Regions from separate parts of the Homo sapiens genome. Here region 2 is linked to region 1. The links come from fine-mapping of genetic effects on plasma protein levels. A gene starts in region 1. The other region holds a variant in brackets. All regions are shown on one strand. Distances are from middle to middle.

The links. PIP is the chance, under the fine-mapping model, that this variant and not a neighbour inherited with it causes the effect. Protein levels are from antibody-based Olink assays in UK Biobank. Linkage for the fine-mapping came from a reference panel and not from the study's own genotypes, which makes the PIPs less certain.
Region 2: its variant is fine-mapped to the plasma level of the PDIA5 protein (UK Biobank, PIP above 0.99).

The regions. Positions count from the first base shown.
Region 1 is chr3:123,065,979-123,068,879 of GRCh38, forward strand. It overlaps PDIA5 (protein disulfide isomerase family A member 5), which reads left to right and starts at 1,047. Exons shown (of 17, transcript NM_006810.4): 1 at 1,047-1,228. The coding sequence starts at 1,187. RefSeq lists a silencer at 1,102-1,341.
Region 2 is chr3:123,112,449-123,115,349 of GRCh38, forward strand. The region is part of intron 7 of PDIA5 (protein disulfide isomerase family A member 5); the gene reads left to right. Among named protein-coding and RNA genes, the nearest start is that of PDIA5, 47 kb to the left of the region's middle. The variant C/T (reference allele first, on the strand shown) is at 1,708.

The sequences.
Region 1 (2,901 bases):
TTCATTCATTGTAGAATGTATTAGCATTTTATTCTCTCCCCCCCACCTTTTTTTTTTTTTTTTTTTTTGAGACAGGGTCTCACCCTGTGGCCTAGGCTGGGGTGCAGTGGCATGATCTTGGCTCACTGCAGTCTCCATATCCCAGGTTCAAGCAATCCTCCCGCCTTAGCCTCCCAAGTAGTTGGAACTACAGTCCCTTGCCACCACACCAGCTATTTTATTTTATTTTATTTTTATTTTTAGCAGAGATGAGGTCTTGCTATGTTGCCCAGGCTGGTTTCAAACTCCTAGTCTTACACGATTCTGCTGCCTCAGCTTTCCAAAGTGTTGGGATTACAGTCATGAGCTGCCCTGCTGGGCCACTTTATTCCTTTTAATGGCTAAATAACATTCCATTAGATGGATGTATCACACTTTGTTTACCCATTCATCCTTTGACAGACGTTAGAGTTGTTTCTACCTTTTGGTTATTGTAAATAGTGTTGCTGTGAACACTGGTGTACGTGCATTTGTCTGAATACCTGTTTTCAATTCTTTTGGGTATTAGCCTAAGGGTGGAATTGCTGGTCATATAGTAATCTATGTTTAACTTTTTGAGGAACCACCAGATTGTTTTCCAACAGCTCAATAATGTTTTACTGAAGTTAAATAGAATAAGCAGGAGGGAGTCTGGGAGGCAGGGATGAGGGCTTTTCCTGTCCTTCACAGGCAGCCCTGGACTCTGCCATTTACCGGCTGTGTGATCTGGATCAACGTACTTAAATTCCCTGCGCTGCCTCCTAATCCTCAAAGTGGAGAAAATAAAACCTAATTTCTGTGAGCTGCGTGAGATACTGTTTCTGAAGCTCCAGGCACAGAGTAAGCCCCCGCTCATTAATTGCCTTCCCTTACTCCCTGACCTTGCCTTTTCGCACTTCACTCGCTGCCACGTGGCCTCGGAGCCCAGTCCGCACCCGCAGCCCCCAGCTGAGCCAGGCTGCAGACTACAACTCCCAGCGAGCACTTCTTCCCGGCCGCCTCTCCCCAGCTGCTGCGCATGCTTTGGCAGACGTGGCACCGGGAACTCGGAGGCGGGGAGCGGCTGGGAAGTGGCCGTGGTGGTTGGCCGCGGTGGAGCTAGCAGGCGGGCGGGCGGGAGCGGGCGCCGGAGTGGAGAAAGGAGCCAGCGGTGGGCAGCGCTGCTGGGATGGCGCGGGCCGGGCCGGCGTGGCTGCTGCTGGCAATCTGGGTGAGACTGTGGGGCAGGGATCCGGGCCGGGCCAGCACGTGTGTCCCGCGTGCCCTTCTGCGCTCTCTGCTCCAGCCCTCTGCGGAACGTGCGGGGAGCTGCCCCGGGGCACCGGGATGAGGGCGTGCATGCCAGGCAGGCGGGCACTGGGTGCTACGCGGGAGACAGCGGGCGTCCCGGTGCCCTCGCCGCCAAGCGCTCCCGGACGCAGGGGCAGGAGGCAGCTGTGGGGCGCCGGGAGATCCCTGGCAGGGTGCTTACGCCACGGCCACAACTTTGCGGGGATGCAGGTCGGGGCACAGCCGGTCGGGCAGGACGCCGGCGGGCTGCGGGGTGAGCTCCGCTCCAGACTCCGAGCCCTGCACCTGTGTGAGTGCGGGGTGGGATGGGGGTGCTTACTACCTGCACTGCCGGAAACCTTGGTTTAGGGCCACCTTGTTCTTGGCTTCGGCCCCAGGCGTCTGGGAAACTGCGGGCCACCACCTGGGCCTCCGCCCACAGGCCAGGCTCGGTGGGCTGGGTGGGGTCGACGTAGCCCGCCCCGGCGGAGGAGCTGCTCCTACACCCAACTGAGGCGGGCTCGAGCCTCAGCCACTTTCTAGCTGTGTGACGCGGCGGTTCATTTAATGTATCTGAGCTAGTTTCCTCATGCATGATATAGAAAGGCAAAGCTACCCCCATAGGGTGGTTCTGAGAGTCGGATGAGGTCTCAGTGGAGGAAGCTGTGTAAACTGCAAAATCTTACAAAAGTGGAAAAGGAGTGGACTCCAAGAGTAGTTTGCTACACTTGGTGGGGGGGACTCCAGGCATCCCTGAGAGAGGTCGGAATGGGTGTGCCTGCCGGCCCAGGTCTGGGGTTTGGCCTTCGTTTCGCTGTGGGTGTGTGATGAGATATTGTGGCCTCCTTCCCCATCTTTTCCATAACTTATGCGCTCCCTTATTTTAGGACCATCCTGGTCCTTTTCCCCTGAAGTTCCAGGGAACTTCCTGTTCCTGGCACCCTCCCCCCAACCCAGATTTTCCCGTTCTTTTCCATTTGGGTGTGGCAAGGACACTGGGCAAATGGGAGGAGAAAAGTGTGGGTTGAGTTGCTTGAAACACTTCCATCTCCCAATACCCTGGCCTTTTGGATCACCAGTGAGGAGTGGCCTGGTACTCTCTGGTTGGAAGTGGGTGGGGAAAGAAGCCCCCTGTTCTCTTCGGTCTGTGTTCTCCCTCTTGGGGAGAACCAGGCTGGAGTGGGGCAGTGTCACTTAATTGCGTCTGGGTTTGTTGAATGCTGGTTTGCCATCAGTTCCCTGGAGCCAGTTGGTCTGGGCGGGTCTCTGGGCCAGGAGGAGGGAGCTATCTCCTGAAACGCCCCCCATCGGTCTTTGCACTTGGGCTGAGTAGGAGGTCCTGCTTTCCTCCCTTTCCCCTCCCTTTTGTGAAAACAAACGGCTTGAGAATCTGAAATTTCATTCGGCAGACATTTATTTGTCAATCACATTGTTTGGATTGATATTTTGCCCTCCACTGGGTTAGATTTTGGGCGGAGAGCAAAACACACATTGTACCTGCCGTCTGGTGTTGCCCTGGATTGGGCAAAGGAGTCAGTCCTGTGAGCAAATAATGACAGAACTGCAAGTGCTGTGACCTTAAGTACTAGTATCCTTCACTGAACCGGAGCCATA
Region 2 (2,901 bases), 46 kb after region 1:
TGCCCCTCTGTGGCATTCTGGTGGTTCTGCCTGACTTGAGCCAGTAGCTTATTCGCCATGACAGCAGCCTTTCCCCAGCCCTATTCTTTTTTTTTTTTTTTTTTTTTTTTTTGGTTTTGAGACAGAGCCTTGCTCTGTTGCCCAGGCTGGAGTGTGGTGGTACCATCTCAGCTCACTGCGACCTCCGCCCCCCGGGTTCAAATGGTTCAAATGATTCTCCTGCCTCAGCTTCCCGAGTAGCTGGGACTATAGGTGCCCGCCATGAGGCCTGGCTAATTTTTGTATATTTTTAGTAGAGATGGGGCTTCACCATGTTGCCCAGGCTGGTCTCAAACTCCTGACCTCAGGTGATCCACCCACCTCGGCCTCCCAAAGTGCTGGAATTACAGGTGTGAACCACCGTGCCCGGCCCCCCAAGCCCTGTTTTGATTGCTGGGTGTCCTCCAGCCCCAGCCTCCTCCCCAGGCCTCCTCGCTGGCCCCAGGGCTGTGCTTACCTTTGGGATGAGGCCCTGGTGTCTCACTTGCTGTAGATCCAGCTCTGCCCTGAATGGTAGCTACTTTAACCCTCGCTCCTTCTCTTTATTAATGTTCATTAGTTGGTTTCACCCCTTTTTGTTTCTTCTTGGAGGAATATTACTAACTACCCAGCTGTGAATTGCTTTAGGAATTATTCTGTCCACACAGCCCCTAGAGGATGGGCCTCCTTTGGTATATCTTAAAGCCCTTCAGGACTCAACACATTGGTTAAATGAAGCTGTAAAATGGAGTGTATATCAATATGCAGTGCGTGCCACAAGACGGCATCCGGGTGTAACCAGGCAGGTCTCAGTGTGATGCCATTAGTCATTTAGAAGTGTGCACGGGCAGTTTGCGCCCGTGTGCTGTGCCCTCTCCCGCCATGCACCCAGGCTGTGTGGCAGTGTGCCCATCCCATCCTTCACGACAGAGAGGTGAGCACAGTTATCATCTTTACAGAAGAGAAAGCTGGGGCAGGGGAAATTAGGTACCTCACAGAGTCACAAAGCTTATTGGTGGTAGGGGAGGGAGGAGAAAACTCGGAGGTTAAGTTCAACTTTTGGTGGAGGGTCAGATCGGTTGCACTCCTAGGTCCCAAGGAACCTCGGGACCCTTTTTTTGATTATGCACGTGTGTATGATTTTTTACAAAATGAAACAAACTTGTGCTTTTAGCACACTAGTCTAATCAAGTCTCCATGGCATCATAATTCAGCTGATTCCTGGGATACACAGCAGTTCCCTAACTGGGACGTCTGTTAGGACTCTGTGACCCTTTGGTCACATGTTGGGTGAATGGGCCCAAAGGCAGTGAGAACCTTTGGTGGTGACAAGGAACCTGGCTCCCCAGGATCTACCGCTTATTCAGGAAATGTTTGCTCACTGAATTAATAAGAAAATAAAAAGGCTGACTACTCTGACTTTTGAGGTTTGAGAATGATAATTAGTCTTACCTCTCCCCCTGCCTCCCAGTGGAATCAGCTGGAAGATAAACTCAGGAAGCACAGGGCCAGCCCTATTTTTGGTAAAGTTAAATTGGAAACTGGCTTGGCCTGTGGTTTCCTACTCCTCCTGCATCACCTCTCCCCAACCAATAACTTCTCCACCCAGCACCACTGGCCCTGCCCACAGGGACAACTGGCCGACTTATCCTCTGTTTCAGGGTGTTATTGCTGCAGGCTGCAAACAGG[C/T]GAAACAGGAAGAGAGAGGCCACACTGTGGAGACAGATAGTAAATAAAGTTCTTGATAGATGAATGTGGCCCAGTGGGGGTCAGACTGAAGTCACTGAGCGAAGAATGAGTGAAAGGCTGCAGGTGTCCCCCCTTATTTTCCCTCCTGGGGAGTGCAGCGACATCCTCTTCCCTCAGTGGAAGTGTTTCCCCCACCATGGACTGGGAAGCACCCCCCCAAATCCTGGCATTGGACTAAGATGTCTCTGCAGGCACTGAATGTTCCCCGGCTCTATCTAACACCTGCAGGGCACCTATCCCCACTGCACAGATAGGGAAGCCGAGGCTTGGAGAGCCCAGGCCACTTGCCCAAGATCACCCAGCCAGTGGGAGTTATGGGGAGATGCAGACCTCGGTCTCAGCCTTGTTCTTCCCAGAGCTGAGCTCCTTCCTCTGCGCCATCTGCAGCCTCCTGTTTTCCACCCGGTGCATTTCCCCCTGAGCGTTGTTCCTGCTTCTGTTCTCCTCTTTCTGAATCCCCACAATGGAAACAATGCCCCTGACAAGTGTCATATTCCTTCCTTCATGCCACTGATGGTGTTCGCACTGAGGTGGCAGGTCCTGAGGAGAGGTGCCTCTTATCTTCTGAGGGCAGATTCGGCGGGCTCGCGCTGCAGGCTGGCCTCGAAACAGCTCCTTTTCTCCTGCCAGGACTGATGGCAGAACTTAAGCCCAGGGTTCGCGTACTGGGGTGTGTGTGAGTCCATCTGTCAGACAGGAATGTCAGGAGGGGGCTGTGGGGCAGTTTTGGAGCCTCATGGCCAAATGTCCTGTGTCTGCATCTTGTCCGGTAGGCTTGGTGCTGGGGAGGTTCTGGTGGCCCAGAAGGAATGTTGGCCTTCTGGCTTCACGGCCTGTCTAGGCGTCAGCTAAGCATGGATTGGAGCTGGGCTGCCTGTCGCCACATGGACCCTGTGCCCGCTGTGCCAAGCTGAGATCAGCCTGACACATGGTTCCAGGCAGCTTTGGTTCTGTGCTCTTCAGATGCATCTTAAGCCCTGTTTTGTAGCAGAGAGGCAGTCGGAAAGGGTAATAGCCTGGCACTTCAGAATCCCTGCTGTCTGAGGAAACTGCTCATGTCCTGTGGGATCAGTGCTGAAATGTGGTCTGCTCTGGTTTAAGGGAAGGAGTTTAAGGTCACTCTAAAGTTTTAGT